Linked DNA regions of Homo sapiens: regions 2 and 3 are each reported to be linked to region 1. The links are microRNA targets in miRTarBase. Many come from high-throughput screens and were not tested one by one. Region 1 holds a microRNA gene; each other region holds the end of a gene's coding sequence.
Evidence for each region. The annotated mature microRNA hsa-miR-6720-5p reads UUCCAGCCCUGGUAGGCGCCGCG and lies in region 1 at 3,910-3,932, shown strand. An mRNA with a match to its seed (bases 2 to 7 or 8) in the 3' UTR can be bound and repressed. Matches are read on the target gene's strand: a 7mer-m8 pairs with bases 2 to 8, a 7mer-A1 pairs with bases 2 to 7 and ends in A, and an 8mer does both.

Region 1 (7,188 bases):
CAGGGAGGGCCAAGCACCCTACCCCAGAAACACCACTGCGGCCTTCTTTCTGAGCCTTGTTTCCCAACTAACTGGGCCGGTCACAGCAGCGAGCGCAGAGGACTCCCTGTGCCAAAGGGGACGATAGAAAACAACCCAATCGCAAGATGAAGGGATGGGGCAGAAAAGCACGCCTCTTCTCCTGCCCCTCCGCAGGCATCTTCGTGGGTCCCGAACGTCTTAGACTTCCTCTAGAGAAGCCGGGACTTCAGGGCGCAGAGAAATGCCCTTTGGTCCGAAGCATCTGGCAGCGCGAGGAGTCCCTGAGGTAGCCCCAGGCTGGAGGGGGACAGAGAAGGCCTGGACCCTGCTCTCCCGGGGCGGCTCCCCGGTCCCCGGCCTGCACCGGGCCGCTTGACCTCCACCCGCCGCCGGCTTTTGCTTTTGCTTTCTCGGCGCCTCCTGGCCCCGGGGCGCAATCGGCCCGCAGTGCCCTGCGCACTGGGCCCCAGAGGCTGCTGGACCGGGCCCTCTCGGCACCGGGCTGCGTTAGGTCCATTCGCCCGGGTCTTTTCTTAGTTAACCGAGTGGTGTGGGGACCATAAAGTGCACGTCGCTTCGGGCCGGATTCAGTTTTTCAGTGCAAGAAAACCGTAACCACGGCCCGCCGGGCTCGGGCCCTGCTCTCGTGGCCTCAGCCCCGCCGTGTCCCCGCAATGCCGGAGCGAGGCGGCTGCTCAGGGGCCGCTGCCTACTTCCTTGCCCGCAACACCTACCCGAACACACCCGGCGCTGCGCTAACGCAGCTGCCCTGTCCCGCGAGCCCCGATGTGTGCGCGGCGCTCTGCACACAGGTGAGTTCCCTCGTCGCGTTAAAGCAAGTTCTGATGGCAAGTCCTGGACCACAAAATAGCAGGCTCGGGAGGAGAGAGGGCGAGCGCTCACACCTGCCCACGAAGGCGGCCGTCGGCGCTTTGATGTGCTGAGCGGGATGACAGAAGCCCGAGCTCCTTCCTGAAGTGCTCGCAGGGCTTAATGGAGAACTCCAGGGCAGCCCCTGCGCCGGCAGGGGCACATGGACCATGGCCACCAGGCCCAGGAGCGGAGGGCGCGGCCCTTGGGGTGTGCTGGGGGAGGGAGGGTCGTGCTGGGTGTGTGCGCGTAGACATGTGCTGATCTGTGTGCCGGGGAGACTGCCTTGGCCACCCCCGCGCCTCGCCGGGCCCCCAGGCCTCAGTGGGCGGCGCGCTCCCAACTAGGCCCCGCGGGGTCCCGGTGCATCCGGCCGGCTCCTCCGAAGCCTCCACCGCTGGCGCTCCAGGGAGATGGCAACAGGGCCGGGTGGGTATCCTATAGGGACGGGAGCAAGACAGCGAGGAAGGAAGGGCAGAGGGTCCCTGTCGGGCGTCAGGCCCGAGCTATTGTCTCCCCCGGGCGTTCCCAGACTCGGTCGGGGGTTCTGCGAGGCTCCCAGGGAAGGCCGGCCGCGGGAGGCCGCTGGGTAGGGGCACAGAGGCCGGCTTGCTTTGCTGGGCAGTTTTCACCCCCTCCAAGACAGTAATGTATCCAGATTCCGAAGTTTTGGGAGCTTGTGCCTGCGCCCAGTGTTATGAGGTGGGGCGAGAGCAGCCTTGAGGAAGGGTCAGGAGTCTCTTTCCTGTGTGCTTTTTTTTCTTCCTAGAGTACGGTTTCTCCAAGGCTGCTAAGCCTCAGAGTCCGGGTTCAAGTTGAGTGGATCTGCCGGGAGAGGAGAAGAAGGGGAGCAGGGAGGGCAGCTGGCAGGCTGGGAGAGGAGCAGGCAGGCGGGGAAGGGAAGGGGCCAGTGCACCGAGGGGTGTGTGTGTGTGTGTGTGTGTGTGTGTGTGTGTGTGTGTGTGATTGACAGCCGGTCCAAGGGAATACAAAAATAAGAGGGGAAGGCCGCCTGTATTGGTTACTTGTTGAAATTCCCATAAAATTGAACAAGACTCTGTTCTCAGTGGGTTAAGTCAGGCTAAAATCCTCTCCGGTGTGGTCCTGCCGAGACTGTCTTTGTTTGGTTAACCTCTGAGACCCACATTTAAAAGGCCTATTTGGGAAATTTCACCGTCCAGGGAACCAACATCTTTTGCCCATTTCTGGGCTTTCCTTCTCCCCGGGTGCTCCCGCTGCACACCGGCTCAGGAACACATAAAGCATGCATCACCCTCCAAGCCACTGTCTCATTGCTGTGGGAGGCCAGTGTGAGAGAGTAGCTTGGGGCCTTGCCTTTGACTGGCAGGCCCATGGGATTTTAATCTGCAGCCCTAGGTGCTCCGAGCGAGGGGTTAATGTAAGGGTTTATCTCTGTTCTTCACATTAACCTGGTCAAATATTCAAATTCCCTCTTCCATCCCTACCGTCCCCTCCCACCTTTCACCGCCTTCAGCAAGTCAATAATTTTTCATAATCTGCAACCAGAACAATGTAAACCAGCCACACTACAAGTGGCATCCACAGGGCAGGCGCATTTCTCAGGGGAGTCCTAGCAGGGTCCTTCAGGTCCTGCCACCCAGGACCTGTATCATCAATGTGGGTCCATTGTTGGGCGGGGGGGGAGGCAGGGAAGGGGAGGAGTCTCCAACAGTTTGGTGACCCCCTCCACTGGCAAATGTCCCTTTAGTGAAAGATCCTGGGATCCAGCTCTGTCCCTCCCACCCCCTCCTCTTAACACTTGCCCAGCTGCAAACATCTCGCTGCAGACACCCCAACATACAGAACATATCTGATTCTGACATTTACTTCGGGACAGAAGTACAGCAAAATGAACGCAAGGAAAAAAAGGGACAAAAGGAACTAGACACAGCTTCCTGACCAAGTTCCCCAAAGGCCAGATGCCTTCTCTCCAAGCTAAGTGAGACTCTGAACGGGAGACCTGCAGTCTCCTGCACAGGGATCCCCAAAGAGCCCAGGAAGGCAGGGGACTTTACACCACGCTCACAGCAGCCAGACAATTCTGAAGCTTCGGCTGCTGGCCAGGGATACTGGGAGGACAGTAAGACCCTGATCCCTGCTCCCACGAATAAGATGCCGGCTTTCCCCAGCATCTGCTTTTCCCAGTGCCCTCAGACCTCCTAGCTTCGGGGTCCCTGTTTGTGGGAGTGGCAGTGGCCGCCAGCCCTGGAGGCCTAGAAGCGGTGCGCCCAGCTGGCTGGGCTGGAGCGTGCTGCGTTACCTGAGAGGTCCTCGCGAGCGTTCTGGTGCAAGTAGCTCTGCTCCAGCGAGTAGGAGGACATGCTGGAGTGCAGGCCTGCCGAGGCGGCGGGGTTGCTGCTGGGCGTCAGGGCAGGCGGCTGCTTGAGGTAAGGCGAGGCGCCAGGCGAGCTCCAGTGCGCCGCAGGGCTCGTGTAGGGCGAGTGGCATTCGATGGCGCTCGCCATGGCCGGGGACGAGGGTACCGGGCTGCTGCTGCTGTCCGGCCCGTAGTCGCCGCCGCCGCCGCCCCCGGCCGCACCGACGCCCCCGGGTCCCGCGGGCACCGGGCAGCTGGCCATGTAGGTGGAACCCGGGTTGGGCGACATGTGCGGGACGTGGTGGTGGTGGTGGTGGTGAGGGTGCGCGTGGCTGGGGGCGCCCGCGCCGGCGTCGTAGCCCGCGGGCATCATGTCGAGGCCGCCGTAGCCGCCCTGGCTGTGGCAGCCGAGCGGCGCCGACGGGGGCGCCTGGAAGTCGAAGCCCTGGGGCAGCAGCGACGCCCCGAAGCCCAAGCCGCTCACCACGCGGTGGTACATGGGCTTGAGCGCCTGGCACTTCCGCCTGAAGCCGCGCGGCCGGCGGCGGAACGAGCCCTCCTCGAACATGAACTCGCTGGCCGGGTCGATGGTCCAGTAGTGGCCCTTGCCGGGCCGCCCGAGGCCCTTAGGCAGCTTGATGAAGCACTCGTTGAGCGAGAGATTGTGGCGCACCGAGTTCTTCCAGCCCTGGTAGGCGCCGCGGAAGAAGGGGAAGCGCGCCTGCAGGAACTGGTAGATCTCGCTGAGCGTCAGGCGCTTGCTGGGCGAGCTCTGGATGGCCATGACGATGAGCGCGATGTACGAGTAGGGCGGCTTCTCGGGCCGCCGCAGCCCCGAGCTCGCCTTCTTGGCGCCCCCGCTCCCGGCGCCCGCGCCGCCGCCGCCCGCGCTCTTGCAGGCAGCCGAGGGGGCGCTGGCCGAATTGGAGGAGGACGAGGACGAGGCGCAGGAGGCGGAGGACGACGACGAGGAGGAGGAGGTGGTCTCCGGGGCGGCGGCGGCGGCGGCGGCGGCGGCGGGCGGCGGGCTCATCAGGGCGGCCTGGAGCGCGCCGGGGACCGGGCTGCACGCGCGGCGGAGCGGGGCCGGCGGCGGCCCGCCCTCGGTGGTCATCTGGGACCCGGGAGCGAGGCCGGGCCGCGAGGGCGGGCCCCGGGCGGGAAGCGGAGGCGCCGGAGCGGGGTCGGCCCAGAAGCCCTGCGAGCGCCCTAGCCCGCCGCCCGGGCTGCAGCCGTGGCCACTCCGGGCCAGCGCTTCGGCGTCGCCTCCCTCAGCTCCTCTGGGGCTTCTGGCGGCGGCGGCGGCGGCGGGCGGGAGGCAACGCCCGGCGCATCCCTCCCCGAGCCGCGGGCCCTGCCTTGCGCAACGGCCTCCCAGGCCGCGGGGCCGAGCGGCCGGCGCCGGGCGACTGCGCCCGCGAGTGGGACCGCGGCCTGGACCCCGGGGACGAGCCCGACGTCTCCCTTCAGGAGCGCTCCTCGCTCTGTCTCTCGGACTTCCTCCCTCCCTCGCCCTCCCCGGCCGCCCTCCTCGCTCCCTCCCTCCCTCCCTCCCCCCCCACCCCGCCCTGCCCCCTCCTCGCTCCGCGCCGCCGCGCTCACTCCTCCCCCTCCCGACCTGGCGGCCGCCTCCCTCTCTTATCTCGCTCCCCGCTCTCCAGGGTCTCCTCGCTCTTCATTCCTCTCGCGGCCTCCTCCCCTTTCCCTCACTCACCCTCTTTCCAATTGAGGGATCACAGACTCACTCCGGTTCTGCCAGGGGGACGACCCCCACCCCTCGCAAAACTCGACCACCTCTGACTTCATGAAATATTCTTTCTGTTTGCCCCCCGCAGCAAGCCCCGCGTCCCATCCCAGGACCCAGCCCCGCCCCTCCGCGCCCCCTTCCTCCTCCTGGCCCGCCGGGCCGAGTGGTGCTGCTGCGGGTGCGGCTGCTCGGAGCCTCCCTGGCCGCCCTCCCCAGGGCCGATACTGACTCCATCTGTCAACTTCGTTTAGACTTTGCCGCCCTCAGCCACACGCCGGGGTGCCAGACGCCCAAAGGTAACGTGCCAATCCTCTCTCTTTCTGGCAGGGCCTGCAGGCTCCCCGACAATTGTTAGGGCGACTGGGGGCCGCCGCAGGGTTGCGGGCCGCTGGCGATCGTGGACGTTTTCGGAACTTTGAGCAGAGGGATTTACACTGAGAAACCTAGGCCAAGTTTCAAAGACTCTGGAAACCTGGATCTCATGGGACTTAGGGTTGCATTTGCTTCCACTTCTTCCCCCCACCCCCGCACCCCAGTTAGTGTTCTGTAAGAAAAAAGTGCAAAAGAAAAAGGAAGGAAGGAAGAAAAGAAAGAAAGAGAAAGAAAAAGAAAGACCCTGAGATAAGCGAGATGGCTATATTTATAGTCAGTCCTGAAGGGGTGTGCAGCTGTCACTAGGTTTACATCCTCCGTCTTAACATTGCCCACCCAAAACTGTGCCAGGTCTCAGCTAACTCCTGTCCGAGAACACTTCTCCCCAGTTGTGGCTAATTCCTCCCTAAGTAAGAGTCAGGCTCTGAGAGAGATGTGCCCTCGGGAGCAATCACTTCCAATGAGACCCGACAGTTAGTTATTGGATTACACGTGCAGGGAAATGTAGTCCGACCAGGGATAGGAGCTGGGAGAGGGAGGAGGAGAGCAGGAGGCCGGAGCTGGCGGGGCCTCCCAAGGGCTGAAGGGGGAGGCCCAGAAAGAAGGTGCTGCAGACCAGCGGACCAAACAGGAGGTAGAGCTGGGCACCCCGCTGCGTCTAGGCTGAAAGGACCGAGGTGCACGGGTGTGCCTGCTGGGGAGCCTGGGGAGTTGCAGGAGGCAGGAGAAAGGGAGGTTGTGCAGTAATCAGGAGGAAGACACCAGGCAAAGAGCCTTCACAGCCGCACAGCCTAGGCAGGCCCCCTGGGGCGGCAGGAGCCCTGTGTGCCCCTGGAGTGCCGGGGGACTGCTCCTGGCTGAGTGTGCTGGTGGGGCTGTAGATGCAGAGAGGGCGGGTGGGGAGGGGAGGGGTATGTGGGAGGGGGGTGGGCCGGGGCTGGCCCCAGACAGTGACCTGAGGTTGAGTGGAAGCAGGCTTTTTCCATCAAACCCTGCCTGGATACCACACACAGAGACCGAGTGTCAGTTTACTGCCCTGAGCCGGCTCCTTCTCCCTAAGCTCCACAGTAATTAGACAAAGAAAACCTAAATTAGCTGAACAGGCGTCGACAGCTTCCTCCAGAGCACCCCTGGTACCTACATGGGAATGTGTCCGAAAATGGCTTGATTGTAGCCGAGAGTCAGCTAAGAAAACACCGCCAAACCGAACTCAGTTTACCACTCATTTCCAATAGAAAAAAGAAACAAGTCGCTCTTTTCCGGGTGGGATGTTTTGATTGGGTTGGGGTAGGGCTTCGCAGTTGTTTCCACTTTCTAAGAATTTCTGACTGACTGCTGAGCGTTTTTGGGGGGTGCGTCCCCATATATTTCATGGTATTTTTTTCTCTTGCCCTCATTTGTCATTTTGTGTGGAATAACTTAAAAATACATAACTAAATATGAAAGTAAATATAATGTGTTCACTAAACCAATGCTCTAAGTGCCTAAAATATAATTATTTTCATAAAATAGAAGCTGGAGTGGGGAGGACAGATAGGATCTTAAAGGAGCTCTACTGACATAGAGTTCAGTGTGTGTGTGTGTGTGTGTGTGTGTGTGTGTGTGCTTTAAATGGAAAGAGCCCAGGGGAGAAGCTTGTGGGGGAAAAGGACAATTATCTCATTTGTAGGTGGGGGCGGTGGGCAACGGGCTTTGGAAACATTCAGTACTCATTGTCACTTAGCCATGGACTCTCTCTGATTCTCTGTGCCTGAAAATTATATGTATTTGGATCTCAGGGAATACAGATCCAACTTGTTAAGAGCAGGCCTTAAAAGGTTTTAGGACCCGGAGACTGAAG
Region 2 (7,188 bases), not on the chromosome of region 1:
GTCGCGATGTGAGCTCACAACAACCTCCACCTCCTGGGTTCAAGCAGCTCTCCTGCCTCAGCCTCCCGAGTAGTAGGGATTACAGGCACGTGCCACCACACTTGGCTGATTTTTTGTATTTTTAGTAGAGATGGGGTTTCACCATGTTGCCCAGGCTGGTCTCAAACTCCTGAGCTCAGATGATCCACCCATCTCGGCCTCCCAAAGTGCTGGGATTACAGGCGTGAGCCACCGTGCCCGGCCGGATCTATTCTTTTCAAACGAATGAAATGTTAACTTTCTTGGTACACTTCCTTGGTATAATGCTGAACTCGTATAGTAACTCAAATGGGTATCTGCATAGATACAGGGGTTTTCGTTTTGTTTTTCCAATTTGCAGGAAATTATAGTGACTAGCGTAATAAAAACAATCAATGACTTGGGAGACAAAGGAATCCCTGAGTATCTCTCCTCTCATGCCCTGTGAATGAATAACAACTTTATGGCTTAGAGTCCTCCTGTCTTCCCTTTTCACCCCTCTAGTCCCTCCTCCGTCCATTTCTTGAAGGGAACTATGAGTGTGATAGAAGGTGGAGTGGGGATTCCCTGTGGCCTGAAACATTTCTTGCTTAGTCTAACTCAAAAGATCCTTTTTCATTTGTTACCAAAAATGTATTAGGTCCCTGTTGAAGGCTAGGCATGGGGTAACTGGTAGGGGAATACAGATATTTTTGAGTTCATAATCTGGTCATGTGGGAATTGCTATCTTTGTGATTTTGATTATTTCTTCCAGATTATTTTATTCAATAAATCTAGGAGACTCTGGGTTTTAAGGAGTCAGCATCTAAAAGTGATCTTGCAAGCCATGCAATGAATACTCAAAGTGTAGAGTAGTCCACAGAAAGAATAGGGAAAACCTAACATTTCTGTAAGATTTAAATTTCAGTATAAAATCTGGAACATTCTACTCGCAGTAGTATTTTAAATGTTGTATTTTCGTGAGTTTGTTAACCTTCGTTTTTTGTTTTTGTTTAACATTCTTGCATTTTAAATCAGGTGCAGCTATTGCTGGAGTTTACCGAGCAGCAGGGAAGGAAATGATACCATTTGAAGCCCTCACACTGGGCACTGGACAGACATTTTGCGTCTTGGTGGTCTCCTTTTTACGGATTTTAGCTACTCTATAGCATACATCCTTATGCTGAGATGTTGAACTTAAACTTTATGGAATCCTCCAAAAGAATACATTATGGAGTGTAGTGTTTTCTTAGTTCTTCAAAGGGAAGCAACTTGGATGAACAGGAACATGAAGGACAACACATCTCAGCCTTTTCTTCATTTTGAAGCTCCTAGAATTGAAGACTTATGTGGACTCCTATTGTTCTCAACCAAAACAAGTCTTTTGGCTTTCTTTTTTGTAGATATTTGATTTAAGCAGTTTTCATGTGTACCTTTACCCAAGCCAAGTCAACAGTGTCTCTGGGGTGGCATCCTTTGCACTGAAATTTACAGTATTCTGTGAGATGTCGCATATTTTGAAGAAACCGTGGAAGATACTGGTTTATTTCAAATGAGCAGAGTATGTTGTATTAAAATCTTATCTAATCTTGATTAAAATTTGGCAAACTCTTTTCTTTGCTACATCTTAGTGACAATAAATGCCAAATAGGTTTTGGTTGAGTATAGTTTTGAAAACAAATTTGGTGAAATAAAGCAGGAAAAAAAATTTAAGTATAACTCAAGTAGTGGCTTTGGTTCCACTGTTTATAAATAAAAAGTAGATAACAATGAATAATGTGACATTTTCTGGACAACTGTCTTGACTTCTGATTAAGATATTTTAAGAGATGTGAATTTGTTATTTTGTATGTTTTATCAAAATAAGCTAGCTAATTTAGACTTTTTAGATTTTCTGTACCACCTTTCCCTATCACTTTTAATTCTCTTAATTTTATTTCATTTAATTGGAAACATACATACCCTATTAAATGGCTTGAGTTGGAAATTTTAAGCCAGATTTGTTTGGACATTGAGGCACACATAAGATACTTTAGGCATTCTGTCATAGTTTTTCTTAGTGACTTTGGTATACTAATGACCCTTGAGAAACTATAGAAGTGCATCTGAAACTAGAGTTAGTGGTTATTGATTTTTTAGCTTAATGTGTTTACCTAGTGGTAACTCTTCAGCCCACTTTTACAGTATTGGGTATCAACTCCCAGAAAGTGCCTAAAGTTTAATGTTCAGATATGTACCCACTCTCCCCTTTACATTTTTATTCAAAAGAATTTATATCTTTAAAGAGATTTAAATATCAAGAGTTTTTTTAAAACTTAATTTTAGCTATTTAAATTTTTATTCTACTGCCTAACTTTCTTTTTCATTAAAAGGCCTGAAAACTGTGACTCTTTGAGAGGGAAAGAATCGCAGAAATTAAGTATTTAATGTGATCCTTTCCACCTAAACTGTTTTGTATGGAATACAATCAGTGTGGTGGTAGTGGTGGTGGTTATCTGCAAAATAGTTTCTGGTGATTAAATCTGACTTTTTTTTTTTTTTTTCTTTTAAATGAGACGGAGCCTCACTGTGTTGCCCAGGCTGGAGTGCAGTGGTGCAATCTCAGCTCACTCCAACCTCTGCCACCCGGGTTCAAGCGATTCTCCTGCCTCAGTTTCCTGAGTAGCTGGGATTACAGGCACCTGCCACCGTGCCCGGCTAATTTTTGTATTTTTAGTAGAGATAGGTTTCACCATCTTGCCCAGGCTGGTCTTGAACTCCTGACCTTGTGATCCACCCGCCTCGGCCTCCCAAAGTGCTGGGATTACAGGCGTGAGCCACCGCGCCTGGCCATAAATCTGACATCTTTAAAGGAAAGTTTTCATTGTGAGATTAAGGCTTAACAGCCCATGAGGTCATATACACATGAACGTATCTATTCCATTTAAAGCAATACACACTCTGGCTTCTGATTAAAAATAGCCAGGAGGAGAGTCTCTGAATCTACTGTGATTCTGGAGTCTGCCCAATTTGGAAAAAAAAAAAAAAGAAAAAAGTCAGGAGGACCAATTTGCCAGGGAAACTCATAGAAAAGAATTACAAAGAGATCACAAAAACTGGACATATTCTTTTGACTAATTAGACCACTTATGGCTGGGCGCAGTGGCTCACACCTATAATCCCAGCACTTTGGGAGGTCGATGTGGGAGGATTGCTTGAGCCCAAGAGTTCAAGACTGGCCTGGGCAACATAGTGAGACCTTGTCTCTACTACAAAATAAAAAAAAATTAGCTGGGCGTGGCCTCAGCTACCCAAGAGGCTAAAGTGGGAGGATCACTTGTGCCTGGGAGGTTCAGGCTGCTGTGAGCCGAGACCACGCCACTGAACTCCAGCTTAGGCCACAGGGCAAGACCCTGTCTTAAAATAATATTACTAATTTTGGTAATTAACTTATCAAAACTATAGTGACATATACACGGGCAGAAACTTATAAGTAGAGTTGTAATGCAGCCAAATATTCTTACAAATTCCCTAACAAGAAGCTCAAATCTTTCTCACAGGCAAATTGTAAAAATTCTAGTTTTTTGTTTAAAGAGCTGTGATTTTCAAAAGTATCCCTTCAGTTTAAGAAATCTGGGGAATTGGTAACTTTTCTTATGGGAAATGATTGCCATCATCTCTACTGAAGGATGCCTCTTACTGAAAAATGTCTTTTGAAGGAGTTCTTGCCTAAAGCATTCTTTGGATGTAATTTCATACACTAAACATATAGACCAGTAGTTAGTGGGCCCCTCCTCTTAAACAGTAACTTTTGAAGTACTGATACATGATTAAAATGTTAGATATTTTTCACTGGAGCTAAGACTTAAAATTAGGGCATTTTGAAAGGTGTATTTGTTTCTGTTTCTTGTTTGATATATTTTGGTTATCTACTCTTTTAAAAAACTAAACGTATAAAAGGTATCTTCAAATTACTGAGTGTTTCATCCATCCCAGTAGGTGAAGTATTCTCCAGTGAATAAATCTATATATATATATAGATTTTAAATAGCTTGAGCGGTGTAGCTTGAAATGTTTTCAGGGAAAGACTATTTGAATCATAAGGAATAGCTTTGATTTTCTTTTTTATGTCTCAAATATAGAATTATTTGGGGGTGGTCACTCAGATGGAAGAATATTGGCAATTGTGTTGAACATTTTACCTTATATAGTTTTGAGAATTTTTGCCAAAAACTGATTTCTTAGAAATATCCTCCCCCAGCTGTGCTTTGGTTTTTTGGTTTTTTTGTTTTGAGACGGAGTCTTGCTCTGTCGCCCAGGCTGGAGTGCAGTGGCATGATCTCGGCTCACTGCAAGCTCTGCCTCCCGGGTTCACGCCATTCTCCTGCCTCAGCCTCCCGAGTAGCTGGGACTACGGACGTCCACCACCATGCCCAGCTAATTTTTTGTATTTTTAGTAGAGACGGGGTTTCACCGTGTTAGCCAGGATGGTCTCAATCTCCTGACCCGCCTCCACCTCCCAAAGTGCTGGGATTACAGGCATGAGCCACCACACCCGGCCTCTGCTTTGTTTTTTAAAAAAAAAGAAATGCAAGAGAGGGAGGGAGGCAGCCTCCTGACCATAAAAGCTGATTTCTTGATTTTTTTTTCTTTTTTTTTTGAAATGGAGTCTTGCTCTGTCTCCAAGGCTGGAGTGCAGTGGCATGGTCTCAGCTCACTGCAGCCTCCGTTTCCTGGGTTCAAGTGATTGTCCTGCCTTGGCCGCTGAGTAGCTAGGATTACTGGCACCCGCCACAAGGCCCAGCTAATTTTTGTATTTTTAGTAGAGACAGGGTTTGATTATGTTGGACAGGCTGGTCTCAAACTCCTGACTTCAAGTGATCCACCCGCCTCGGCCTCCCAACGTGATGGGACTATAGACATGAGCCATCATGCTTGGCCTTCTTGATTCTTGAATACGGGGTTTTGAGGTGAAAGCATTTCATGAAAACTTAAGTTCATACACAAGAGCATCATGAATATTCTAAAAGAGGTATCTGTGCTTTTTTTGTGACCACAAAATATTACTTCTTATGAAATGTTTACACTAGGTGAGGAAAAGTTCATTAATTACCTTTAAACCGTTCCTTATTTTTTTTAAGATTTTAAATTGTATTTTGGCTTTTGCCTCCAGTATCCTTTCTGGTTGCTCTGGTTTGAATTAAGTTCCTATTATGCTGCAGCACATATCAACCTTCCCTAAGTAACCATTTCCTGGAATGTGAAGCATCGGTGCCATTAGCAGACCATATGCAGAAATGTCGTGTACTTGCATTTCTTTTTTGTGCACTCTATAAGGCTGGTTGTGACTCAGATCAGCTTAACTTTTTATATTATGTTATTTCACTAACTGCTACAGTCAAAATGATCAAATCTTTGTACAATAGAAAATTATTTAAATTTTATTTTTCTACTGACATTTCTAATTCTAGTGTAAATGTTTATCAATAAAAAATTACTTTCAATTCTGAGTTGGAATTATATTTCTTTTTGGTGGCTAATGAGTTTAATCTTTTGTAATAAAATTGACTTCAGTTTTCATTTTTTAAATAACTTAATATCTAGCATGTGTAACTTTTTTTATGTTCTACTTCTTACTAATTTATGATAAAATTCTTGTTCAAAGTTGTGATTAAACCGTACTTAACATGTGAACTTGAAATTCTTATTAACTCTACTTGCTGGGCCATATATTCCCATCAAGAAACTTTTGTTTGATTCTGTGCAGGAATAGGTGAGTATTGATACAGTGTGTGAAAATGTATTATTTTAATAGTAAGTCCACATGAAGAGAAGCTTCGTCGTGTTTGGTTAATTTAATACCCTTGGTGACATCATAAATCTCACTGTTCTGCCATTTTTAACAAATGGGACTAAGTTGGGTAGTTTACCTCATGGTCACAAGATTGCTGCAGTTCCAGCCATTGCAGACACATACAGAGAATGTCTGGCAGGAGATTGCCCATTCATTCCTTCTAATTTTCTAAAGTTGAGGTTTAACATGCAGTAAAGTGTACAAATCTTAAAATGTATAGCTTAATGAATTTTACATATATATATATATATATATATATATACTTAATGTGACTAATAGATCAAGAGACAGAATGTTTCTAGCACCCCGGAAAGATACGTACACAGTTCAGACAGAAGACCCCAAGACTGTATATGTATCTGGGAGTAAAGGTGCTGAGATCGGCAGGGAGGACACCCTAAATTATTACCGAGAAAACAGAACAGTGAACCAGGAATCTTTAGGGAGTTGGAGGGATTTGTGCTGTGGCCAAGTGGAGAGCCCTGTCCGAAGGAGTCAGCTATTGCTTGGCTCCAGCCTGTTTCTGCTTTATTCGATGATTAACCCAATCTTGCCAGATACTTATTTTCAAGAGAAGCTGGAAATCTAGGTTACTGTTTGAAATCTCTCCATTTTTAAGTGTTAGCAACTAATTTAAACTTGCGTAAAACACTTTTATTATTTATTTATTTATTTAGAGACACAGTCTCGCTCTGTTGCTCAGGCTGGAGTATAGTGGCGCGATCTTGGCTCACTGCAATCTTCACCTCCCAAGTTCAAGTGATTCTCCTGCCTCAGCCTCCCAAGTAGCTGGGATTACAGATGTGCGCCCCCAAACCTGGCTAATTTTTGTATTTTTAGTAGAGACGAGGTTTCACGGTGTTGGCCAGGATGGTCTCGAACTCCTGACCTCAAATGGTCCGCCCACCTTGGCTTCCCAAAGTGCTGGAATTACAGCCGCGAGCCACCTGTAATTGTGCGCCTTGCCGTAAAACACTTTTAAGTCATTACAATACATGATTTTAAGCTGGATTTGGCCTGCTCACCACCAATTTTTTTTCCATCTCAACTATTAGAAAGTAATTCCCACTCTGATTACCCTTAAAGCGGTCAGGAACTCTAGTTGTAAATCTGAACAATCACATGGAGTGCTAGGAGAAATGGGTGCTGGGGAGTGTCTGCCAGAGAACGCAGTGGCTCCTGTTCCCCAGACTCACCCCCAGTGATAGGGCAAAAGGGTACATCCTGATTTGTGGCTGTAGGACACCATTTATGCTGTCCAAGGTAAATGACGCCAAGAATGGTCAACTTCCAAATACTGGGTTCAAATTTTACATCTATTTTTCTATTACTCTCCCATAAGAAAAGTGTGCTTAGGC
Region 3 (7,188 bases), not on the chromosome of region 1:
AGCTCGGGCTCATGAGGGCTTTTATTTGGCAGAAACCTGTCCCTCATCTCACCTTTGAGAGCTTTTGAGAGCTGGGAGCTGGGCCAGGCAGGTAGACCTCACGCCCTCACGCCCAGGGGTACTGGCCTTGCTAAATCTCTAGGGGTATTTCCCAAACCTGTTTTCAGGAGCTAGCCCTGCCCCGAGCCCCTGCCTGCTGGGTACAGGAAAGGGCCTGGAATTTCCCCCGGGCCAGGCCACAGGTCGACCCCCATGAAAGAGCTGCTGGGTACGGCGCCTGCTGAAGGCAGCCTGGCAGCTTGCAGCACCAATCAGGCAAATACAGACACCAGCTGCAATAACACAGCCGACCATTTTCAAAGTAGAGACAGTTCCATCCCAGCCAAAATTCATTCTTGAGCCCAGTAAGATGTCCATAAAGAACACATCTGAGAGGCCAACAGCAGAACCAATTTATAATTCACAGCCCGAGACTGCAGTCACAGCGATGGTTCCTTGCAGCTAATTTGAGCCAATTAATTAGATTATAGACTAAATTTGAAACATCATCCTATGCTGAGAAAATTCTTTTTATGAGATGATGATTTAAAAATGACTACCAGTAGCTCTCAGATCATTGATGCTGGAATTAATTATCAAGGGCAAAGGACAGTGATGGATTCCATTTCTGAGCTGTAACAATGTCCTGAATGTCATTAGTGTATTTATCTTAAGGCTGATGAAAACCTTGTGGAAGCCCATGTTTGCAGGCCCTGCCTCGCCGGGTGCCCCTTTTGCATCCGTCCAGGCACTCACAGACCTGGCGGCCTTTGCAGGGTCTCTCACCACTGCACTTGCCATCCCAGGCCCTGGCCCCAGCCTGCCCTCTGCAATGGGGGCTCCCAGGAGGGGGTCCTAAGCCTCTGGCCCAGTGGTGCTGAGGCCCCAGGGGACAGGCTGGCAGGAAGCAGACGGGCATACTGCTTGTCTCAGGGCAACAGTGCCAGAAAGGGATTCCAGATGTCACATCCCCCTGCTCCAGCGCCCTGCCCTCCCTGTGGATCCCCTAGCACCATCATGGGTTTCCTCACTCAGAAGCGGGATGACAGCCTGTTCCCTGAAGCGTCTTGGGGCCCACAGCAACCATTCTTGTTTCAGAGGAGGAAACAGAGGCTTGGAGGCTTGGTAACATAAGCAGAGTCACACAGCCACGTAGGGACAGCCCCATTTGAGACTCCTCAGAGGTGCTCTCCTGGCTCCCTCAGCTCCTGTCAACCTGGGAACAGTCACAAGGGTCCCCGAGACTCATGGCAAAGACCAAGCTCCTCAAAACAGGCCCCTGTTGGCTCAGGGCAGAAGCCCATTCTGGGGAACGGGTGGGATCAGTTCTGTCCGAGTTCAGAAAGGGAAAGTGAGTGCTGGCCAGGCTGGGGCGGACAGAACACTTCGACGGGCTCCGGAGCCCAGATTCAGCCAGGAACCCACAGGCAACTCGGCCTACCCCCAGCTGAGGCCCTTTTTGGACCCGCAGGGGAGAGATCTTAAACCCAGCGCTTTGGTCCCACCCACCCGCTCCCACACTGGGAGGAGACCATGGCTCCACACACAGCCCCTGCCAGGCCCACAGGGGCGGGCATGGGGGCCCACCTGCCTCCTGCATGTGTGGACAGGGTCCTGGAGAGTGAGGAGGGCCGCAGGGAGTACCTGGCGTTTCCCACCAGCAAGAGCTCGGGCCAGAAGGGGCGGAAGGAGCTGCTGAAGGGCAACGGCCGGCGCATCGACTACATGCTGCATGCAGAGGAGGGGCTGTGCCCAGACTGGAAGGCCGTGAGTCAGGAGGGCCCAGCAGCCAGGGCCATGCAAAGAGAGAGCAGGGCCCGGGCCCTGCAGCTCTCGACAGCCGCTCCCTGAAACCCCACGCCCCAGGCCACTCTTACAATGATACCCATCACTCCCTCAGACCCTTAGGGCCCCAGGTCCTCCAGGCCCCATCCCTCTGACTGCAGGAAGGTCCCAGCCCACCCCAGCCCCGGGGCCTCACTTTGGGGATCCCCAGGCCGCTCCCTGCAAGATGCCCTTGGAATCTGACCAGGCTGTTTCTCCCCTCTCCCACTCACCCCAGGAGGTGGAAGAATTCAGTTTTATCACCCAGCTGTCCGGCCTGACGGACCACCTGCCAGTAGCCATGCGACTGATGGTGTCTTCGGGGGAGGAGGAGGCATAGACCGTCCGGAGCAGCGGGGCCTCTGCCAGCCCTTGCAGCTGCAGCCCATCCCTGGGCCATGTCCCCTCCATCGAGTGCCCGGTGCTTGGGGGAGGAGGGCAGGGACAGGGAGGGAGCCACAGTCAGTGCCCGGGAACCTGGAAGCTGCGCTGCTCTGCGCCTCTGGGCCTCACTGTGGACAGAGGAGTCAGGCCCGCCCCAGGAGCCTCCAGCTGCCTAACCAGTGCCATTCTTTCACAACACGATTTTCTACAAATCTACAGCACAACCGAGTTTGTAACCCGTGGGTTAGTATGAGGACCGGGTTCGTGTACTCTCTGTATCTCCTCTTAAGCTTCGTCCAGGGTTCTTTATTTTTGTCTGCTGCCAATGTCGTCTCGCATGCCTGCACCCTCGCATGCACGCTGCCCGCATGCCACGTGCCACGCTGTAGCCACAGACCCCTTGCTCGGGCCTCACCCAAGGCCAAACTCCAAACACAATCAGAACCAGCCAAAGAAGCACTTCCTGGGCACGGCCACCAGCTCTCCCGCCTCCAGTGTGGGCCGGCTCCTGCAGGGTCCGAGGGCTGCATCTCTACCAGCCAGCCCAGGGCTCTTCCCAGGGTCTCGCATTCAAGGGCAATTACATTTTAAAAAGAAAAACAGAAAAAGGTTAATCACAAAACCAACCCTCACTTCACAGGGTCTGTAAGTCACTCATAGAACTTTGCTCTTCCCGAGACAGGGTCCCTTCCCCAGCTCAGGCACAACAGAGTCTGGCAGGCTCTGGCACCCTGGGCCTCCTCCGGGAGCCTCCCATCTGGGCAGTGGAGCCATAAACGGGGATCCGAGAAGAGAGTATCCACTTTTTTTTTTACAGGAAGAAGGGACTCACAGCATAAACGGGGGTGGGGGGGATCCTGATTTTGAAAATAATCTATTTGTAGCTTCTCTTCTATCAAAACCAACACATCCTCTTCTTTCTGCCAATCCTCTCCCCCACGGGACACCTCTCTGGTTCGGGACCAATCCCTCCCTGGGGACGTGCCCCACCTGCGTGCCGGCTGAGCTCAGGAACCCCTGCCTGCCCCCCGGGTGGGGCTGCGGCTCTGGCCTCCCAGGCCCATCCTCAACAGCTACCCCAGCCAACACCAAGGCCACAAGGGGACCCCGGCCTAGGAGGCAGGAAGCCAAGGTGCAGAGAGCAGCCTGGCCCTCACCAGTGCGCAAGCTGGGGCAGCAAGGCTGACAGTTGCTGCATGCCCAGGGCAGGGTGTGGTACTGGCACCCAAGTTCAGCATGGCAGAGCTGGCCAACAGCTTGTGGTCCCCGATCTGCCTCCAGCCCCAAGATGCCTACAGCCCCCAGGCCCCTTCGGCAGCACTGCCTCTGCCCACCTGCCTTTAAGAGACTCCAGGGCTGCTCCTGTCATGCAGCGAAGGTTTTGTCTGTTTCAAAGTTCGAGACTCAACTTGAGGGACTGTTTTTGACAATCCCCGCTGACCTCCGCTCCTCGTGGCGCCCTGGCCCTACACCCAGCCTGGCCCAGGGCCGGCTTTGCCTGGTGAGGCTGGAGGGAGCACCAGGACCTGCTGTCTGCTGTCAGCCCCTCCTGGTGCTGGTGCCCTGATGCTGTGCCTTGTCACCCATTGAGCTGCAAGAGGGACCAAGAGGGGGCCACGCAGCCAGCCAGATGCCTGGCCCTGTGCTGGGGCAGACAACGCTGCAGAGCCCAGGGAGCCTGGCGCTAGGACGTGCGTCCTTGTGACACTGGCCTGTCTGAACTCACCTGGCCTGGGAAGCACCGTCTGCCCGGGCCCAAGCCCTGCCCCTCCAGAGTCCAGAGCCAGGAAGGGGCTGCTGAGGGCGAGCATCCTGCTGGGCTCTCTGCCCGGCCCACCCCTCCAAGGGGCTGGCCTGTGAGCCTTGACTGGGATTCATGATGTGGAGGCCCCCAACTTCCAGAAGCAGCTGGTACTCTGCTCACACAAGCGACTGGGCCGGCCGGCCCTGGACCCCTAGACCCCGAGCCGCCTGCCGACTGCCTGCACAGGGAGAGCAGTTGAGGCCCGGGCAGGGCCCCCACACCAGACCCCAACATAGCTTCCCCACCCAGGCACCCCCTCCCGGGGCAGCAGGCGTGGGAGTCAGGGCTGCATGCTCCTCCCCTCCCACCTCACAGGCGGCCTTAGGCAAGTCATTTTCTGTCATCACAAGGTCGCCTCTGCCTAGTCAGGTCCTGGGGTCCAGAGTAAGGATGTGCGGCCCCCAGGCCCCCGCACACCTCCCTCAGCACCAAGACCGGGACCCCCCCACCCACGTGTCTCATTGTGGCTGCCTATGGACTCCCGGGCCTTGTGTGCAGGCCAGGCCCTTCCACTGATTTTTTAAAGTGAACCATTGCTGGATCTCAGATTCTGTGGCATCTAAGGCCTAGCAGGGGTGGGCACACGGGTCACCCGAGGCCCATACCAAGACTCTGTTCCTGCCCTAGGCCCAGTCTCAAAGGAAGCCACAAGGCGCGGGGGCCACTGAGGAAGGAAATGTTCATTTTCATTTGTCCAAAACCACCTTAAGTTTTAAGTATATTAATCTTGATGCTTTTTAACTATTGCTTTTTAACTTGCTGAGATTTAGAAATACTGTTATAAAAACTTTTTTAATTTCTGTATTTTTTTCTGTATTGTATCTTCATGGGACATTAGGGGTTTTCTATGGTAAGCACACCTATGGTTTTGGTAAAAACATTATCAAATATATATCCAGACGGTTCTTCCCTAGAAGAAAAACAAGTCTTTACACCTGATAAAATATTTTGCGAAGAGAGGTGTTCTTTTTCCTTACTGGTGCTGAAAGGAAGGATGGATAACGAGGAGAAAATAAAACTGTGAGGCTCAAGGCTGGTGTTCTCCACTTATTTCAGCGACAAGCTGGGGCCAGGCCTCAGGGGCACGCCTGGGGGCAGGGGAGGGAGTTCCTGCCCCCAACTGCAGGACAGGCACTGCCCAAGTCTGCCCTGAATCCGAGGACACCGGAACTCTGCTCATACAGGCGGCTCGGCTGGCCTGGCACAAGCCTCACCTTCTAAGCTGCGAGCCAGAGGCCACTGGGTTCTCTCACGTGGTGTCTGCTGTTACCTCTGAGAGCTGGGACATAACCAAAGGGGGGTTAGTGTGTGAGAGAAGCAAGGCCACGGCACCTACTGACCTTCCTGGTGAAGCGGCGCTGGGCAGGGGCTGCTCCCTGCCATACCCCACCTGCAGGAGGGGCTTTCCAATCTGAGGGAGGTGCAGGGAACAGGGCTGCCTCCCAGCTCCCCTGACAGCCACTTTCCTGGGCCTGCATCTCAGGAACTGCTCTGGGACAGCTGCCTTGTGTCCAGTCTCAGGTCCTGGCAGGCCACCAGCTGGTGCAGCACTGAGGCCAGACACCTATGGATGTGGCTTGAAGTTACCTGTCAGGTGAAAGGGCCAGAACCCAGGCCTCTCAGCCCGGGCCCAGCCAGGGTCTTCAAGCCCCAGAGACCCAGCCACAACTCAGCATCTCCACCCTCCTAGCAGAAGCCAGAAGAGCAGGGACCCGGAGATCCTCGAGAGTGAGACAGACAGGACAGGCTCCCGCCACGGGGACTGCTCGCCAAGGGCGGCGTGGACAACCCCACCGGCCAGCCCCACAAGCTCCCTGTGCTTCCACTCCCTTCCCAGCTGGGGAGAGATGTCTCTGTGTTGGAGCATTCTCAGCACCTCAGAAGCACAAGCAGGGGGGTCTTCCCAGCCCCTCCAGGGCTCCAAATTCAGTCACCCTCTCATGCTTCCTGCCACAGCTGGAGCCAGAGGCCAGCAGTGCAAAGATGCAACAAGATGCAACACGGCGCAGTCTTTCCCATCCCTGAGGCCGAGCAGCTCCCAGAGAGGAGAGGAGGGCCTTCAGCCTTCCCCGCTAGAAAGCCATGAGCCACTCAGAACCCCAGCCCTCAGGCCACTTTATTGCTCAAGAGTGGTCAGTCTGGGGTATCTGCATGCCTGAACTCCATGATGATGTCGCCTGTGTCGGGGTGAAACTCCACTGCATAGCTGACAGTCCGTGGGCCACCCAGCAGTGCTCTGGGATCTGGGGCAGGGCTGAAGAAGTAGACGGCCTGCTTGCAGTGGGGGTTCCAGCAGCAGCCCCCCTGTAGGAAGAAGAGCAGGAAGATGGTGAGGGCTCCCTGGCACCTGAGCCTCCTTCCTAGCCAGCCTCCAGCCCAGGCAGCTCGCAGCAGAGAGAAGCTGCTCAGGGGCCAGATGGCCCAGGACCACTGAGGGGTCATCATCTGGCCCGAAGAACTTGTGACAGAAACACCCAGAGCATGGGGGCAGGGAGGCCTCCCCAGGCGGCGCCTGCTCTCAGGGTCTGCACGCACACTGGGCCCGGTGCGCAGGCACTACCTCGGGGTCTGCAGGCTCCAGGAGGCCAGTGCTGAGCGTGCACTCCGGGGTCAGGTGGTACTCCATCCATAGCACCGCTGCGTGGCTCTGCCCGGGCCTGTCAAGGAGAGGGGGGCCCAGCAGAAGTAGTCACACAAGAGGCAGCGGGGGAACAGCTGCAGCTCCTGCGGCTTTCCAGAAACCTGTGGTCTTCCCCACTTCCTTCCTGCCCTGCCGGGAGTTCCTAGTGCTGCAGTTACATAAACGTTCCTCAGAAAAACCCCAGCCAGAAGAGCCGCAGCCAAGCCCCCACCTGAGCCAACCCGAGCCCTGCAGCCGGGCCACACATGGGGCAGGGCCGGTGTGGCTGCAGGGTCTGGGGGAGCTTGAGGCACAGCCTGGCACTGAAGGCCGGAAGGCCCCTCTGATGCCCCAGACAGCAACCCTGGGAGCTCAGGTGATGGCGCCCGCCCTGCCTGGCTGCCTGCCCCGAGTTGGGAGGTGCTTCCAGGAGAAGTCACTCCTCGGGCGAGGGTGGGGTGAGGGCCGGAGCAGGACAGGGCTGCCCGTCCCTGGACGCAAGCAGCACTTGCTGACC

Region 2: miRTarBase lists TMEM170A as a target of hsa-miR-6720-5p. Seed matches in the 3' UTR shown: 7mer-m8 at 2,576-2,582, 7mer-m8 at 4,295-4,301 and 7mer-m8 at 4,663-4,669.
Region 3: the mRNA of PRMT7 is a reported target of hsa-miR-6720-5p. The part of its 3' UTR that is shown has no 7-base or 8-base seed match.

Annotation. Positions count from the first base shown.
Region 1 is chr6:1,387,103-1,394,290 of GRCh38, reverse strand. MIR6720 (microRNA 6720) reads left to right here and starts at 3,880; the gene lies at 3,880-3,977. FOXF2 (forkhead box F2) reads right to left here and starts at 4,715. Exons shown (of 2, transcript NM_001452.2): 1 at 3,173-4,715. The coding sequence starts at 4,343. FOXF2-DT (FOXF2 divergent transcript) reads left to right here and starts at 4,830. Exons shown (of 3, transcript NR_187218.1): 1 at 4,830-5,272. RefSeq lists an enhancer at 2,668-3,533.
Region 2 is chr16:75,441,536-75,448,723 of GRCh38, reverse strand. TMEM170A (transmembrane protein 170A) reads left to right here. Exons shown (of 3, transcript NM_145254.3): 3 at 1,036-5,670. The coding sequence ends at 1,166. Among named protein-coding and RNA genes, the nearest start is that of CFDP1, 12 kb to the right of the region's middle.
Region 3 is chr16:68,356,221-68,363,408 of GRCh38, reverse strand. It overlaps PRMT7 (protein arginine methyltransferase 7), which reads right to left. Exons shown (of 19, transcript NM_019023.5): 18 at 6,612-6,708; 19 at 4,825-6,355. The coding sequence ends at 6,185. It overlaps SMPD3 (sphingomyelin phosphodiesterase 3), which reads left to right. Exons shown (of 9, transcript NM_018667.4): 8 at 1,650-1,806; 9 at 2,102-5,082. The coding sequence ends at 2,203. Among named protein-coding and RNA genes, the nearest start is that of PRMT7, 49 kb to the right of the region's middle. RefSeq lists enhancers at 1-28, 29-841, 6,658-6,817.